Linked DNA regions of Homo sapiens. The protein of the gene in region 2 purifies or fractionates together with the protein of the main gene of each other region. This does not show direct contact. Each region holds a gene or a part of one and is shown on either strand. Other genes may lie near its edges.

Region 1 (11,774 bases), on a different chromosome or scaffold from region 2:
ATTACAGTGTGATCCTTTGTGCTGTTAGCAGAGCTGAGGTCTTCCAAAAGACAACACTACAGAATAAGGTGAACCATCTGCTCCTGTAAGAAACCTTGTGTGATGCACAAACCCAGGACAGATACAGAGCTGCAGAAAGACAAGATGTATGACATATAAAAGGACCACAACAGAGAATTCTGTTTAGAGTACTATTTGCCTAAATGTCACAGCATTTTTTCATAGTTCAAAATACACAGATACTTACATTATGGATATATTTATGAATGATTGTAAATAATCTAATGATATATTGTTAGATATGGTTTGCTAAATATTTATCTGTGACTATAGTATGTTGTATATATACACATATATATAGAATATATATATATATATTCATGAATGAGACTGGGGTATAATTTTCCTTTCTCAAAATGTCCTTGTCAGGTTTTAATATCAAAGTTATGCTGGCCTCATTAAAAAGTTGATGAATGTCTCTAATATGCCCAGAGAGTTTGTAAATTGGTTTCTTAGCCTATTGGCTGCATGTAGTTGATTTATTTAGGAAGTGATCTCAGGTAACAGAAGAAACCAGGAAAAATGAAACTTGGAAAGAACAAAAGCAAACAGAAATGTGCTGGGGACAACCGAGGCTTAATTCTTCTGGAATCTCTCATGTAGTAATATAGAATGCACTAAACCGTCCAATCAAAAGAAAGAAAGGAGCAGCAACCAGTTTCATGCAGGCGTAACTTGACAGCACCTCCCCGCATATATTTCACCTTCTACCCCATGGCTTCTCTGACATGAAGCATGGGACACCTGTGGGAACCTCCCTACAGATACCCACTTATATATTTACAACCTGAAAATGCAAGGGAGTTAACAAGCCAAAGACAAACATTTATCAGCAGGGGACAGGAAGCTGTAGATAAATTCTCCCCTGCCCTGAATTAAAAGGTAAACTGGCAGAATGTGAGTTTTGGCATAAAATTGTTACAACTGGCATTGTTTCTTCCTCAATTGTTTGGTAGAATTCACTGCTAAAACATGAACAGTATATAATCTGCCTATGGTTTTTTTGTGGGAAGGTTTTAATTACAAATGCAATTTATTTAAAAGATATAGGACTATTCAGATATTCTATTTCTTCTTGTGTACATTCTGATAAACTGTATTTTTCTAGGAATTTGCTCATTTTATCTAATTTGCCATATATTGGCAAGTGGTAGTTTATACTATCTTATTACTATTAATTGAATTATAACATATATACAGAAAAAATGAACAGATTATAATTTACAGCTTGATGAGTCTTCACAAAGTAAACATACCCATGTAAATATCACCAAGATGAAGAAATACAACATTAACAGTACATAATCTGCCTATGATATTGAGTTTTTTAAAAAAGTTCTGTGAACCCACAAATTAGACATAATTATTACTATTGTCTACAGTTAGTAGTTGTTTAGATTTACTCACAAGTTTGCTATTTTCTTTGCTCACCATTTCTTTTGACATATAAGCCTTCTTTCTAGGGTCATTTTCCTTCTTCCTAAAGTATATCTTTCAGAATTCCTTTACTGAAGAGCTCTTGATGGCAAACTTTCAGCTTTGTGGCCTAAAAATGTCATAAATGCATCTTTACTCTTGAAATGTATTCTTGGTTTTGTTTTGTTTTTTGTAGCTCTAGGTAGACAGTTATTTTCTCACAGTGCTCTGCAGATAATATTCCTTTGCCTCCGGCTTCCATTGTTGCAGATGGAAAGTCAGCTATTAGTATAAGTCATTTAGTAAATATTTTGTCTTTTCCTTCTCTGGGTGCTTTTGAAATGACTTTGTGTTTTGAAGTTTCACTACAATGTATATAGGTGTGCATTTCTTTAAAATTATCCCTCTTGGGGATTCCTGTATCTGGAAATTCAGCCATTATCTCTCTAGATTTTGCCATTTCCCCATTGTCTCTATTACATCCTTCTGGATCTCCTGGTTGACATATCCAGAAAACTTTTATTCTGACATCCTGGTCTCTTAACCTGTTTTTTATACCTTACATCTATTTGCTTTTCCACATTGCATTCTAAGTAATTTCCCACTCACTGATTTCTCTTCAGCTGTTTACTCTCTTGTTTAACTCATCTACTTTTTCTAATTTCAGTTTTTCTCTTTTTAATGTCTAAATGTTCTCTTTTGTTTTTTTGTTTTTTTTTTTTTTGAGACGGAGTCTTGCTCTGTTGCCCAGGCTGGAGTGTAATGGCATGATCTCAGCTCACTGCAACCTCCACCTCCCCAGTTCAAGTGATTCCCCTGCCTCAGCTTCCCAAGTAGTTGAGACTACAGGCATCACCACCACACCCAGCTAATTTTTGTATTTTTAGTAGAGACGGGGGTTTCTCTATGTTGGCCAGGGTGGTCTCGAACTCCTAACCTCAAGTGATCTGCCTACCTCAGCCTCCCAAACTGCTGGGATTACAGGCTTGAGCCACCGTGCCCGGTCTCCTTTTGCTGTTTTTCAAAAAAAAAAAAAAAATCTGATCAATTTTGATTGTCTCTGACTTCCTTATCATATCCTAAATACTTTTAGTTTTTGCATATACTACAAATACTTATTTTATATTCTGCATTTCATAATTCCAACATATAAAGTCTCTGTGAGTCTGATTTCATAGGTTTTTGATGTTGATTTTCATCCACGGTGGCTTGTTTTCCTGTATTTTCATGATTTTAAAAAACTGTCAGCTCTGCCGGGCACGGTGGCTCACACCTGTAATCCCAGCACTTTGGGAAGCCAAGGCGGGCAGATCACGAGGTCAAGAGATCGAGACCATCCTGGCCAACATGGTGAAACCCCGTCTCTACTAAAAATACAAAAATTAGCTGGCATGGTGGTGCGCCTGTCGTCCCAGCTACTCGAGAGGCTGAGGCAGGAGAATCACTTGAACCCTGGAGGCAGAAGTTGCAGTGAGCTGAGATCTTGCCACTGCACTCCAGCCTGGCGACAGAACAAGACTCCATCTCAACAAAACAAAACAAAACCTGTCAGCTCATATTTCTTGAAGCTTATCTCAGGGAATTATTTGTACCTGGATCTAAAATGCATTTCTCCAGAGAGTATTTGCCCTTGCTTCTGTCTGGTGTTAATAATACAAGCACACTTTAAACTACATATTCAGTTTGGAGCTTTTTCATGCTATCTGAGCAGAGCTAATTCAAGTTCCAAACATGTATGATCATTGCTTGTCATTTCTGCCCCTAAAAATTATTTTACTTTTCCACCAGCTCAACCATACATTAAAAAATTATTTATAAAACTGTATTTTAGGCCGGGCACAATGGCTCACACCTGTAACCCCAGCACTTTGGGAGGCCAAGGTGGGCGGATCAGTTGAGGCCAAGAGTTCGAAACCAGTCTGGTCAACATGGCGAAAACCCTAGTAAAAATAGAAAAATTAGCCATACCTGGTGGTAAGCGCCTGTAATCCCAGCTACTTGGGAGGCTGAAGCAGGAGAATTGCTTGAACCAGGGAGGCGGAGGTTGCAGTGAGCTGAGATTGCGCCACTGCACTCCAGCCTAGGCGACAGAGCAAGACTATGTCTCTAAAAAATAAATAAATGCATACATAAAAATAAAACTATATTTTAGCCATTGGTAAGGTAGTTACATATGGAGGGGTTTTTCTGTGTTTTTTTGCTTACTGATCTGTTTACTAAGGCTTCAGCATCATGTAGATCCAATGACTGAAGTTTATAATATATTAAATACATATCTATCATCTATTATATCTTATATTGGAAGAGCTGGAAAGGCATACTCCCTTTCATTGGTCTAGAGTGTCTTGGCTCTTTTCAGACATTTATTGTGTCATACGTTTTAGAATTAGCTGTCAACACAAGCCATAAAGAACAAAATCACATACTTTGCAGCAACATGGCTGCAGCTGGAGGCCATTATCCTAGGCGAATTAATGCAGGAACAGAAAATCAAATACTGTACTTCTCACTTGTAAGTGGGAACTAAACATTGGATACTCATGGGCATGAAGATGGCAAAAATAGACACTGGGAATACTAGAAGTGGGGAAGGGTTGAAAATCTAATTATTGGGTACTATTTTCACTACCTGGGTGAAGGGATCAATCGCACCCCAACCCCACCATCATTATATATATTCATGTAACAAAACTGTACATGTACCCTCTGAATCTAAAATAAATGTTAAAATTTTTTTAATTAGCTGTCAAATTTTTAAAAAATAACTATAGGGTATTGACTAGCATTGTGTTACTATATACGTGTGCACACGCACAGTTTGGGAAGAACTGAATTATTTACAACTTTTAGTCTTCCCATCTGCACATTTCTCGCTAATATTCTTGTTTTTTTTTCTAATTGACAAACATTTTTCCCCCATTACAGTTTCTAACTAGTTATTTGGTGATTACTAGTTCTTGTGAAACAGGTATGTTTCCATATCCTCCTTGTACAAATGGCTTAATAGTGCTTAAGGAGTTTATTGTCAAGACATGGAAGACTGCTAAAGACAAGCAAAATAGAATCATTTCTGCCCCTCAGCTTAGGCAGCCCTTGAGGAGGAAATGCCAATTGCTCCCTTTAATGTTTGGAAAGAGAAATGTGATTATTGTAGCTCTTAAGGCAGACAACTAAAAAATCTTGTTGAAATGGATTTCTTCTAGGAATTCAGGGCCTCTCTTCAGACTCTACAAGTCATATGCTCTATTAAAGCATAGTTTCCACGATAACTACTTGCTGGCATAAAGGCCACGAACAGTTCTTACTTTCTGGGGTCATTCTTCAAATTAACAACAAAGTCCACCCCATCCCTTACCCCTACCCCTAGGTATGATAATTTCATCTCCACGAAAACATATTACTGCTAAACCCAAGCGGTTCAGCATGCCACTTTTCGGATCTGATGTCAATTTACAATCCTTCAAAGCTCAAAAGCTACTTTTTCCTTTTGTCAGCAAGACACTTCCACCCTCGTGTGTCTTGTACATACTGATAGGTCACAGCAAACATTCATTGAATTTTAACTGGGAGCATTTTGGATGGAAATCAAGAGACCTGGGATTAACTGTAAAACCCATGATAAATTATACCAAACGAATGAACAAGAAGCAAGCACTACGTGTTTTTCCCTTTGAGACAGTCTCACTGTTACCCAGGCTGGAGTGCAGTGGCTCGATCTCGACTCACTGCAACTTCCGCCTCTCAAGGTAAAGCGATGCTCCTGCCTCAGCCTCCCGAGTGGCTGGGAGTACAGACGCGCACCACCACGCGGGCCATTTTTTTTAAAATTGTTTGTAGAGACGGGTTCTCCCTATGCCTACGCTGCCAAGGGTGGTCTCGAACTCCTGGGCTCAAGAGATTCTCCGGCCTCGGCCTCCCAAAGTGCTGGGATTACAGGCGTGGGCGTGTAAGCATATATATACATGATTTTTTTTTCCCGAGGACCTGGTCCCCGAAGCACCAATTTCCCTCAACAGTCATTTAGAAAACGAGGCTCACAGACAAAACACAAACAAATAACTTTTTCGCTGGAGGATTATAACTGCAATAAAAGGAGATCCCAAAGCAACCTGAGACACTGCCTTGCCCTGATTGGAAAGGGGATTCCGGTGATTAGTGAAAGATGACTCCTGCATCCCTCGCGTGCGTCCGTATCCGGGAGCAGCCACTAGGTAACTGTAGAGGCCACTGCAATTAATCGGCTTGAACAGCCAGGAGCGGAAACCCGAGAGTCAGTTCAACCACAGCCACCCGCGTGTGCCCGCGGAAAGCCGATGGCCTACTCTCGTCCGGCAGCGCACTGGTTTCCTGGGTTACCGGCCTCAGCGCTCCTCCCGCTTTCTTTTCCGGGAGGCGACAATCTGACGCTCTCAGCGCGTGACGCAGCACGCTTTGATATAAATGCAGACCGCGCGGCCGTAGCTTCCTCTCTGCTCTCGCGGCCGACTCGCAAGATGGCGCCGGTGAGTGAGCGATGTCTTGGTGGGAGTGTTGTGTGGCAATTTAATGATTTCCGCTGTAACGATTTTTGCATCTGTCGAGTGGAGACGTCTCAGTCAAGATAAAGGGAGGGGAGTAGTGAAGTCTGGGTCAGAAACACAACCAAGACGCGAGGATCCTGAACTGTTTTTCGAGACTCCCTGGCAGCTGCCATGAGGTCTAGTGGAGTTGGAGCTGGGCCCGGAATTGGTTTAGGATGGGTGGTTTTGGACACGCGGGAAAGAGGGAGGCACAACTGTAAATGGGCCGGTGGTACTGCAATCTGAGCCATTTCTTTACTATCTCGCGCCTGATAATGCTTTTGCCACTCAGCACTGGGTAGGGGAATGGTGGGTAATCGGGCCGGTCTGACGACCTTTGCCAGGCCAGAGGGAGCTCCTAGGCGCTCAGCTCCCGCGATGGCCGACATCACAAGTTTTTGAGAACTTTCAGTTGGGGAAGAAGTTTCTCGGTGAAGTAATTTTTAGAAAAGTATAAGTCTAGATTCCAGCAATGTGAAATAAACGTGCTTCAGATGTTTTACTTAAGTCATTAGTAAGGGAACCAGTAAGATGTTAAAATGTTCCTAAGAATATCTGAAAAGCTAGATATACATGCGCAATTTACAAATAAAGTTAGGATAAAATTGCTGGGCTAGCTACAAAACTGGGTAATGCCCAGCATGGCCATAAACCCTATAGGGTTATCTGTTCCATTAGACAGAAGTTGTTTGTGTCTCCCAAATTAACTTCTGCGCCAACTGGGTAATTATCTTTTGGCACATGTTACCATGCTACCTGAGAAAGCAAACTAATGTGTAATACTTGGTAGCCACTTGGGTGAATCTAAATTGGAGGTTATAGTCTGATAAATACAGATTTGTTTGTTCATATTGCAGTGAATGTACATGGTTGCTGGCCACAGTAACATTTTGCTTATGTAGCCATATTATATGGTCTTGGTATAAAAGGTTTGGATATGGAAAATTTAAGTTCCACGGTGTTGGTTTTTAGGTTTTTTTTTTTTTTTGAGACAGAGTCTGTTGCCCAGGTGGGAGTATAGTGGCATGATCAGGCTCACTACAACCTCCGCCTCCCGGGTTCAAGCAATCCTCCCGACTCAGCCTCCTGAATAGCTAGGATTATAAGCATGCACCACCACACCTGGCTAATTTTTGTATTTTTACTAGAGATGGGGTTTCACCATGTTGGCCAGGCTGGCCTTGAACTCCTGACCTCACGTGATCCTCCTGCCTCAGCCTCCCAAAGTGCTGGGACGGCACCTTGCCTTTTTTATTTTTATTTTTTCTTTTTCTTTTCTTTTCTTTTTTTTTTTTTTTACCAAAGTCCCCTTCCCTTGCCTATAATAACGTAAGAATTGAATTTTCTAGACATAGGTGGGTGGAATCCTAGCTCTGGCACTTACCTGAGCTTGGGCTAGGCAGTATACTAACCTATTCCCATCTGCAGTGGGGTGGCAGAAAAGCACGATAATTTAAAATTGATCATTGGTAGTATAGAAAACAATGAAAGTCCGTAACTTTTTGACAACTTGAACATATTAGGACTTGGTTAGAGGTTCAAATCAACCCCGGCGTGGGTAGTGGTGGTGTTTTTTTATTTATTGTTACATTTCTGTATATGTAACCTAACAGTACATTGTACAGATTGCATTGGTACAAACTTTAAAATTGTTTATATAAATTGAATAAGTTGTTTTATATAGCTACATAATTATTTCTCATTTATGTAGCAGAAAGACAGGAAGCCCAAGAGGTCAACCTGGAGGTTTAATTTGGACCTTACTCATCCAGTAGAAGATGGAATTTTTGATTCTGGAAATTTTGTAAGTATCATTCTACTCGGCTTATTTTTGTAATCAGAGTTATTGATAATGGTTTAAATATATAGTATTTGATAATAACCTAAGCTCTATTCCTAGGGTACCTTCCCTAGTGAATATCTAGGGTTCTCTTCCCTAGTTTTGCATTTTTTCTGTTTTAAAATAGGAGCAATTTCTACGGGAGAAGGTTAAAGTCAATGGCAAAACTGGAAATCTCGGGAATGTTGTTCACATTGAACGCTTCAAGAATAAAATCACAGTTGTTTCTGAGAAACAGTTCTCTAAAAGGTTGGTACTTTTGCAAATTTTAATAAAACTATAGTAGTTTTGGAATATTTCATAGAATATGTAGTTATTACATGTATTCTGTTTATATGCAAGAATAAATATGAACTTTAGACTAAAGGCCTACATAAATGGGAAATTCAGTAAATGAGTGCCAATTGCTGAGTCTAGTTGTAAGTGTCATTTATTGCTAGAATATGAGCCAGTTGTGTCCACAGTCCCAGTCCAGTAAATTATAGGCCCTGTAAATCCAAATTGTATATAACCTTTAATGCTGAGTACTTTAGTATTTGAGTATGTTGCAAGAAACATGTCTGATGTGTACATAGGAGAATTGTCTCAAGTTATTTATTCAGTAGAGGTAGCCAGTTAAAGTCAAAGTCTTAACATCTTGCTGCCAGTTTTTATTTGTTGAATTTATTCACCAAATATTAAATACTACATGGGCAGCACAGGACTGGGTAACCCAACAGTGAACCAAGCAGGCAGTTTACCCACCACCAAGAAACTTCTAGTGGAGAAGAGAGAGTGAAATGGAATTAATCAAGCAGTGATAAGTGCTGTAAGGGCATAAAACTAGTTGCAGAGTTTTTGGGTACGTTGGTAAGTTGGTCAGGAAATGAAATGCAGAAGTGAGCCTTGCAGTTGTTACAGGCAGGATGAACCAGAAGCCTGGCAGATTAAAGTAATAGTAACAAAGCCAGTGTGTCTGGGGTATAGTGTTCTGGGAGGAATGCATGAGATTGGAGGGTGTCTGGGGAGCAGATCTTGAAAGCCATGGGATGTGTAATGGGAAGCAATTGTTTATTGTGGCTGAAAAAGACTAGGGTGATACATCTGGTGGAAACTGAAGATGTAAGAGCTAATTTCAGTGAGAGACAATGATGGCTTGGACTAAAGTGGTTGCAGTACATGTTAACTGAGATTATAATCACTAAGGATTCAGAGATAAAAATGTAGTAGCTGTAGTAGCTGTAAATCAAGTATCTTACAGATAATCAGATAATTATTGTAAAATACAACTCTAGTTACATTAGATGTAGAGAGAGCCCAAGAATTTTCAGAGAAGTTGAGACTTAATGAGCATAGTATGGGTTTAACCCTATTATTAATAGGTTGCCTGTTGAGCCGGGGTGGGATTGGGAGCTAGGGGGCTTGATAGTGGTGAAGGAGGTGTTAACGTTTTCACATATATATACACAGATAATATATTTGAAGAGTGAAATCATATTGCTTAAATAATTTGGCTGTAGCAGTTTGACAAGAGAATGCTACCCTAACAATCTTGAACAATATATAGTGTGGCAGTATGACAAGAGGATGCTACCCTAACAGTCTTACACAATACATCCTGTGAATGGAAGGATGAAATATTTTGGAGGAAGCTAGGTACAGAAAAGATGAATATGATGATGTATATTTTTCGTATAGTAAACCTTTACATAGTAGGAATTGTATTTCTTAATGAAATTTATGTTTTTATTTTAAAAGGTATTTGAAATACCTTACCAAGAAATACCTTAAGAAGAACAATCTTCGTGATTGGCTTCGAGTGGTTGCATCTGACAAGGAGACCTACGAACTTCGTTACTTCCAGATTAGTCAAGATGAAGATGAATCAGAGTCGGAGGACTAGGCAAAGGCTCCCCTTACAGGGCTTTGCTTATTAATAAAATAAATGAAGTATACATGAGAAATACCAAGAAATTGGCTTTTAGTTTATCAGTGAATAAAAAATATTATACTCTTGAACTTTTGTCTCATTTTTTTGAGTATGCTGTTTATATGATTTTGATTTCCCTCTGATAACTATCAACAGTATTTAAATAGCTTATAGCTGGTATAATTTTTTCCCACGATTTCCAAAATCTTTTATGTACTCAGGTAAAAGTAGCGTTATATAGGAAATCTTTTTTTTAGACACTCTCGTTCTGTCACCCAGGCTGGAGTGCAGTGACTCAGCTTCCTAAATAGCTGGAATTACAGGTGTGAGCCACCATGCCCGGCTAATTTTTTGTACTTTTAGTAGAGTAGGGTTTGGCCATGTTGGCCAGGCTGGTTTCAAACTCCTGACCTCAAGTGATCTACCCACCTCGGCTTCCCAAAGTGCTGATTATAGCTGTGAACCACCATGCCCGGCCAGGAAATCTTACTGTAGAACAATTTTTTATATAGCTGTATAAAATGTATATGATTGTCTTGACAGTCTCAAATACTGTTTTTAATAGCTTGTAAATGTAATCTCAAGTGCTTAGAACAGTTCTTACATATAAGTTGCTCTGTAGTTTGCTCTTATAGTTAGCCCAAAGACTCTGGGTGTGAGGCCTGCTGTAAACCAATGTTAAACTGCTTATTAGAAAGCCCTAACCACCTGCTTTGTAGGCACCAGAAACTCAAAACCAAATCTCAACTCAGCTACAGAATCTACTGTGGTCCTTGTCTGAAAAAATTAGTTCACTCGGTTGGAATCTTGTCTCAGAGCATCCTCATCTCTTTCTCAAAAGCCCCTACCCCAACACCGGCGTGTTGGTTGTCTATTGAAACTTACAAGTGGATGGACCCTTTCTCCCGAATAAACTGGCCTTTGAAAGCTCTAATCGAAATGGTTTGGCAAAATCCATACTGCAGGAGATTAGGGAGGACAAGAATGATGTGCCTTTTTGTACTGCTGAGCCTGATGGTGGTGCCACTACTTCAGGTACTTAGATGAGTCTTGATGCTAATAGAATTGTGTCGCCAAACATATCTGGACAGTTACAACCTAATCTATGCATTAATTGGTTTGGGAATTGCTTGAAATTATTGTTTAATTCAATGTTTTAATTCGTTTTCCTAAAAATTTAAGTGCCCCCATCATCGTGCAATACCTCAGTGCAGCAACTCCTTGATTCTTGGATGACTGAACTTCCTAACTTGGCTCTGCCCCATTGTTCCCATTTTTCATGTTTTTCACAAATAGTTAACCAGGTACCTACTACTGTGCACCGCTGCAGAGCATTGAGGATGTATGTGATGAGTAAAAACACCCAGCCTGCTCTGCTGTGTTAGTATTATGACGGAAACTGATCAAATCACATGTGAACAAATTTACTGCTACAAAAGGGAGGGCTTAATAAAAGGAATTTCATCTGGGAAGGCAAATGAAGTTTGTGAGCACTTTATAGAACAGGGAAGGTAGGCAGTATCTGGGAAGGGGAAAGTAGGGCATTCCAGACAGAGGGAGGAGCACTTCTGAAGTTCTCAGGGCATTGGGAGTCTGGTTGGCCAGAGTACATTCTGGAATAGATGTGATCATGAGGATAATCTGGAAAAGTAGAAGCTAGCCAATGCAGGACTGAAGTCCATGTTTTCATCTTGAGGGCAATGGGAGCTTGTAATGAAAGTAACGTGACCTGATGAGATATGCATTTTGAAAAAGATCAGACTGTATTGTGGAGAATGGATTTGTTGTTGTTTTGTTTTTTGAGATGGAGTCTCACTTCGTTGCCCAGGCTGGAGTTCAGTGGCATGATCATGGCTCACTGCAACCTCCACCTCCTAGGCTCAAGTGATAATCCTGCCTCAGTCTCCCGAGTAGCTGGGATTACAGGTGCCTATCCCACGCCCAGCTAACTTTTGTATTTTTTTTAGTAGAGATGAGATTTCACCATGTT
Region 2 (7,000 bases):
GAGCACAATTCCAAAGGTGCTATCTCATCCCACGTGACAGGGGTCCTGGCCTCTCTTGCTGCTCCCTGGCAGCTGCTGTTAAAGATTTAGAGGATAGCAAGGGTGTGGCAAGCATGGCCAGGGGCAGGCTGTTGCAAGGCTGCCATCCTACTTTCCAAAGCCTCCATCGTCCACTCTGCAGGTTATCACCGAAAATCTGTGTGATTCCACCTCAATCTTGCATGCCTTTCGAAGGCTTCCAGCTCTTTGGTTCAGTGGACAGCTTCCGTCTTACAAACAGGCTGAACCTTATGAGAATTCAGACTCCAGCAGAGTTGAGGCTGGCCCTAATAAACAATACCCATGAGGTATGAGAGAAAGGCCTAACAATGAATCCTGCAAATTCTGCAATTAAATATTGGAAAAGTAATATGTATACCAACCAACTAACAAAATTTACCTACTAACAACATTCTGGCACTAAATGACTCTACAGTGAAGCCCCTGCCATGAAGAGCTGCTCTCCTATGGGCAACCCATCAGGATGCACTGATCTGAATTGGCACGTGAGTAAAAGGTACAGCCTGAAACCATCAAATTAGCACCCGTTCTCCAGGCTCCTGGACCCAAGACATATTAGGGTAAGTGCAACAAAATTTAGATGGAGGTGAAGTGACTCTTAAAAAGCGTGAAATACGGACGCAGTGGCTCACGCCTGTAATCCCAGCACTTTGGGAGCCCAAGATGGGTGGATCACGAGGTCAGGAGTTCAAGACCAGCCTGGCCAAGATGGTGAAACCCCGTCTCTACTAGAAATACAAAAAAATTAGCTGGGCATGGTGGCGGGCGCCTGTAATCCCAGCTACTTGGGAGGCTAAGGCAGAGAACTGCTTGAACCCGGGAGGCAGAGGTTGCAGTGAGCCAAGATTGCGCCATTGCACTCCAGCCTGGGTGACAGAGCGAGACTCCATCTCAAAACAAACAAACAAACAAACAAACAAAAAAACTGAAATACATCCTGCCCCCATGCGATCTGGGTTTGTTTTGTTTTGTTTTGCTTTTCGAGCTAGTAATGTTCCCTTGCATGCCAGCTTTCATCACTCTGGTACTGAAAAGGGCAGTGAACGCTGGGAAGAATTTCTCATAATCATGAACTTAAATTTTTTAAAAAGCCACCTACAAATGAGAAATCTATTTGTTTACTATTAGACTAATGAGGGATTTATTCCAGTTATTTAGATGTCAAAATATTGGGCAATTTAAACTTTAGAGATTTTATTGTGTGAAGCTAGTTAGGTGGAAATATATATAACACTCCAGTCAAAGCATTGTTTTTCAATATTTGTGTGGTTCAGCTTCAGAATAAAAAACAGAGGAATTGTAGCTCTCGGTCCTTATCATTTAAAACTTAAACTAATAAAGTTATCTAAAAAACAACAGAATTTTAATGCTATTCCTGCAGGCCCTGGCATATCTGTCATGCAGAACAAGGATGAACTTAAAAAGTAAACACAAATAAGAAAATGCAAAACTTTCAGAATGCAAATGCCAAAGAGTGCCCTCTCACAGGTATCAGTGGCATCCTTCAATGGCAGCAGCAAAAAAGAATCATTGTGAACTTGAAAAAGTGGATGGGTCAATGCAAGAGGAAGCAAAGCAAAATGAATAAACAATGGAGATCAATTTATACACACACTGTTTTGGCCAACATCTTAACGACTTCTCATATGCACATCATTTTCAAATCACAATCTAAACATTTTGCCTGAAAGCATTCATGTCATTTATACATGTCACTTCATATATACTAGGAAACACGAGTTCTTTGAAAATAGATTTCAAGTATTAGTCTCCGATATATTCATTCATTCTTGCACTGAAACCACCTATTCCACAGAAATCCAAAGAGGGGTATTTTATGACTTTCCAAGAGATATACCTACATACATACATACACACACACACACACACACACAAACACACACACACACACAATGAAAAAACAGGCACCAACAAACCCCATTTAAAAATATTTTAGGATTATACGTGTAAATTTGAACTGTGTTTTTCTCAAGTTCATGCATAGTTTTATGGTTATGAGTCTTAAAAGTAGGTGGGGCTAACACTTCATAAATCCATTTATTAATTGTCAATACCGTGAAATAGGTAGCTGTCAATTATATACAAGAATGCCTAAGAACAGAGGGCAAATGACCTCCTATAGTTACTCATGTAGGAACGAAGCCCTCCAGATGAAACTAAACTTCTTCTTTCGCACCAGGAACTGTGAGGCGCTGAAGATCATCCTGCATGGGCCACTTGTCATCTTCGATCTGGACAGCAGCACAAATCATGGGAGTGGGAAATTTTGAAGCAGCAAAAATGGTAACTGTCTATAGCTAAAGATTATTGTAAGTCAGATTTGACTTATACACCAGATGGATTTCCAAATTAACACGTATTACAGAATCCCAGGAAAGAATCTTTATTTCCCCCTATCTATCTTTACCATTACCCTAGATCACCCCCGGGCAATTATAAGAAGCTAGGTCCTACATAGCAAAGTATGAACACAAGTATTACTATCTTTCAAATCGATATAAAATCTTTCCAAATTAACTCAATTTTGTTCAAGTTTACTTAGAGAATAATTACTTATATGAGCTTTGGCTTTTGTTGGTATCATTGGTTCTATCTGCATTTCCTCGATTATGAGTGAGGCTGAATATGTATTTTTTGGCCATTCATACTTCTTTTAATTGTTTGCCTATTTTCTTTCTAGATATGTCTTGTCTTAATTGATTTGAGGGAGCCCTTTACTAATTACATATATATAATCCTTTGATTTGTAATAGTTTTTCTCCCAGTTTATTATTGGCCTTTTTTTAATGTCACATTTTAAAATAACATATACAGTTAAACGGTGTGTGTGTGTTGTGTGCATGTGTGTAAAGGTCTGTGAATTTTAACACATGTAACTGCCACAACCAGAATACAAATCAGTTCCCCATCCTTCACCTGCCTCCTGCCCCCTTGTAGCCATACTCCCCCACCCCCTAACTCCTGGCAATCAATGCCCATCTGTTTTCTGTCACTACGGTTCTGTCTTTTTGCCAGTGTCATATAAAGGAACTCATACAGCATGCAGCATTTTGAGACTGTCTTCTCTCACTCAACATTAATGGAATGGCTGTACTATAGTTTGTGATCTATTCACACCTACACAGTTTCAATGCTAACAACAACAGACAGACAGCAAGGGGCCCCTTGGCCTTCCCTGCAGTAAGCCAGTAATGGAGCAGCACCAGCTCCCCCTCCTTTCAGGAAAGGGGTCCACAGAGCGGCCAGGACAAATCTGCTGCCACTCACTGAAATCCCTCCCCAAGAAAAACCTCCTGCAATTCATCCCTGTCCATAGCAGGGCTACAGACTGTGAGAAAACAAGCCTGATCAACTCACGTGGACACCACAAAGTCAAAGTACCCTAGACCTAGAATCCAGTCTTTGTGTTGAGTAAGTTTTCATGAAAGCTTTCTCTGTCAGTGTAACTGCTAAAATGCACTCATTGATGACAAAGCCCAAATAGGAAGATGCCTCCAAAACACCAGCTCTAGACTACTCTACAATCCTCCCCCATCAGACAAGAGTAGACATGTGGCTAATGAAAAGAGCCAGTAATCTAAAACTCAAGTATGTTCATCACCAAAACGAGGTTTTACATTTCCACAGCCCCTCTGCCATCAAATGGCACAGGGAGAAATCTCAGAGGTCAATGCCCTCTGCCCCCCGCTCGTAGCCTCACTCTGGTTTGCTCTCTCTTTCCCCACATACAACCTTTCCCGGGGGGCAGGTGATTAGTAATTTGGGTTTCAAGGGGCTTCCTTATGTGGAGAGGGGACAGAAAAGAGGAAATTAAGGTAACAACACAACTATTCAGTAAGCAAATTAAGTGTTTCCATGAGTGAATGAGAAGCGAAAATGAGTGTTTATGCACTTGTTAACCATTAAACATGAGAGCAAGATTCCCCAAAAGCAAGACTGTCTGCACAGAAGGCTCAGTAACATCAAAAAGCTGGGAGTCCTCACTGGACAATCTAGCCAGGTATCTCTCTTTGAGATTTACGAACTAGCAGGGAGCTGGGCACCTTGGCAGTGAGAGCGAAGTCCTGTTCTGCGGGCACAGGGGGAGGAGACCAGGGGTCCAGCAGGAAGCCAGCAGCACATGCAGGGCCCCGCAAGCCTCTGACCACTCCTCTATGCTCCCTTCCCCTCAGTTCAGAGGCACAGCAATAGGAATTCCCAGAACAGCTCCCGCTGAGTAACAGCAGCCAGAATTCCCAAGTGCAAGGGTCACTGGGAAGTCTCCCTGTTCATTCCCTCTCCCAGTGGCCCACTGAACAGCGCGTCAGCAGAACTGGAATAGGACGAAGAGAACCCTGTGGATGCACATCGAACCCGCTTACCCCTTGCTCCAGCTGGGGACCCAGCCTGGTCCCTGCAGCCCATTAATTAAAATGAGGCTGAGAAGATTCAAAAGACAGCATCTCCATCCACCAGGCCAACCACACCATCACCCTTGTCAGTTTGGCCAAGTCTACGCAGCTGAGTACTTGGAAGAAATGGGAGGATGAGGTCAGAGCACGCACTTTCCACCAGAATACACTGGGATTCTCCCGCAAATCCAAGTCTTCACTGTCCAGGGAGTCGCTACTATTTCCTGCCAGTGGCGCTGTTAAAATTTTGTCAAGACAATGCACTTAAGGAAATAAAAGCCAATTCATTATAGAATTGAGGAGGAATGGGGGCAGGGTGTTATCACTGCTTTTTGTAGTAAAACACAGCTCATCCCTATCAATATCAGTGAGTTTACTAGGCAGTAAAGTGTGGCTATTGATTAAGAATTAGACTTTTCTCTGGAATTCTGCCAAGGTTATGAGATAAAATTTTATTTTCTCGATAGTCAAGTAAATAAACAAAGTAAATATTGAATACAGCTGACTTAGATTATGACAGCTTCAAACACATCTTTCACCTGCAGTTCAGAACAAATCTCAACTTTATCGTAACATTTAAAAGGTCAAAAAAGGCCACTGAAATTACATATTTTTAGGGTACATTTAGGAAACATATGTAAACCACATGCTTCATTTTGAACACCACCACCGGCTTCATTTAAATCTGGTTAATCATTTAAATGGTGGAAATGGCTTCTTTAAATTTTCATTTGAATCTTAAATAGTTAAATTGCAAAGGGAAAAAATACAATATCCCACATCAATATGTCGGTTTACAAGGTCTCAATGAAAAGCTTCTTTCAGTGATGACTTTACTGCACTTCTTTGATTCCTCGAAAGTCACTTACAGGAATTTTAGAAATCTCCTTGCTTTCCTCTAAAACTGACTGTGCCACCTAAAAAGGAGAAACCAACATTCACTATCAAATTACATTTCCTTCAGTTTCTATTTTTGAAATATTGAGGGTAACAAGGACCCACTTTGTAATACAATCATTATTGGTGCTCACAAGGACCAAAGCTGCCAGGCTTCTCAATACCAACAGAAGTAGCACAGCCCGCCCCAGGCCAACTACCTAAGTGGCATTCAAGGTATAAATATGAAGAAAAGCTTCTCTCAATACTCCACAAGGAAACCGTCATATCAAAATATATAAAAGTATGTGTGCTTCTCCCTAATAGACTTGATTTTCTTCACCTGTTCCCTGGAAAGACAGGGGCTGCAGGAGGAGTCGAGTAAGATTTAATAATGAAAGAAACCAAGCACGACAGGACGTGATGCTTCAGAATAACTACAAACCTTTATTCTCCAGATATTCATTTAACGCCAACCTAAAGCGTGCCAGGCAGGTTAAAAATACTGCATTTATGTAAGCACCTCCACCACACACACACGCTCTCACAAGGTTAAATAGGGAGCTCTGAAAGAATGATTTATTGCCACGAGAACAGAGCCCCAAAATAGATTGGCAATAAAAATGATTGGTCCCAGTGGGGTTGAGAACTAATGTAAGCAACGTCCTGGCTATGAGAAGCGACCAGGAAAGAGCACCAGGGACCAGGGCCCTGACTCTAACTCTACCCAAGTTCCACTCTGGGGGGCAAGTCATGAAACCTCCCTAAGGCTGATTCCTCATCTGTAAAATAAAATTAAAACAAGGCTAGCTCATTTTTGTGGTGTCTTTTTTTTTCTTTTTGCTCTTGCATTGAAATTGGTTTTACTGTGCTGAGCTCTGTGCAAAGGAGAAAAGTGAAGTTTGAAATTCACTAACACCTGCAGAAAATCTCTTACTGCTCTTTAACACACAAGCACCAGGACTTGACTCACATTATTACAACTCAATCCACTTGAACACTAATTGGCCTGCCTGCTTCATGCCAGGTCTATAAATAGGTGATCAAAATGATCATCAAAATGAACAGGGAGTGCCAAGGTCCTGAGCAGAGAACGGAATGACAGCAAAGGAAATGAGACCTTGGGTGAGGTGAACCCTGGGTGGACGCTCAGCAGAGGAGAAGGGCACCAGGGCTCTGGAGCCCTGAACTACCCAAAGAAAAGCGGAGAACAATGATTAGGCACTGAGGACTCAGAGAAAGCCAGAGTCCACAGGGAAAGGGGAACAGCCCCAAGGTCATCTCCCGGACCCCTCTCCAGGGCAGCAGTCCTGTCCCCTGAGCCCAACTCCAAACCCTGCCAGGTGACAGCACCTTTATGTGAGCACTTCCAGTAATGGAGAAATCACAGGACTGTTCACTCTATTTCTGAACTTCCCTTAATTGTTTAAAAGTTCTATTAAAGTCTTCTCTTTCTTTCATCCAACCACTGGTATTAGTTTTCAATCTGTGGCTACAAAGACAAAGCCGAATGCGGGCAACAAGAACGAATTTAAAAAAAAGAAAGAAAATCAGGCAGCCATGCAAACAGAGTTTCAGGGCTGAGAAAGGAAAGGCAAGCAATGGAAAGCCTTTGTCTAAGTCAGGTTGGCACTTTTAGTACCAGGCTCAAA

What was found.
Region 1: the proteins of TRIO (region 2) and RPL22L1 purify together in Homo sapiens (affinity purification with mass spectrometry; 2 studies listed by BioGRID). This does not show direct contact.

The regions. Positions count from the first base shown.
Region 1 is NC_000003.12:170,864,363-170,876,136, reverse strand, and holds RPL22L1 (ribosomal protein eL22-like), read left to right. Parts: upstream 1-5,941; 5' UTR 5,942-5,969; coding exon 5,970-5,978; intron 5,979-7,746; coding exon 7,747-7,839; intron 7,840-7,935; exon of another isoform or gene 7,936-8,002; coding exon 8,003-8,124; intron 8,125-9,612; coding exon 9,613-9,757; 3' UTR 9,758-11,262; downstream 11,263-11,774.
Region 2 is NC_000005.10:14,146,342-14,153,341, reverse strand, and holds part of TRIO (triple functional domain protein), read right to left. Parts: intron 1-7,000. UniProt on the Homo sapiens protein: Guanine nucleotide exchange factor (GEF) for RHOA and RAC1 GTPases. Involved in coordinating actin remodeling, which is necessary for cell migration and growth. Plays a key role in the regulation of neurite outgrowth and lamellipodia formation.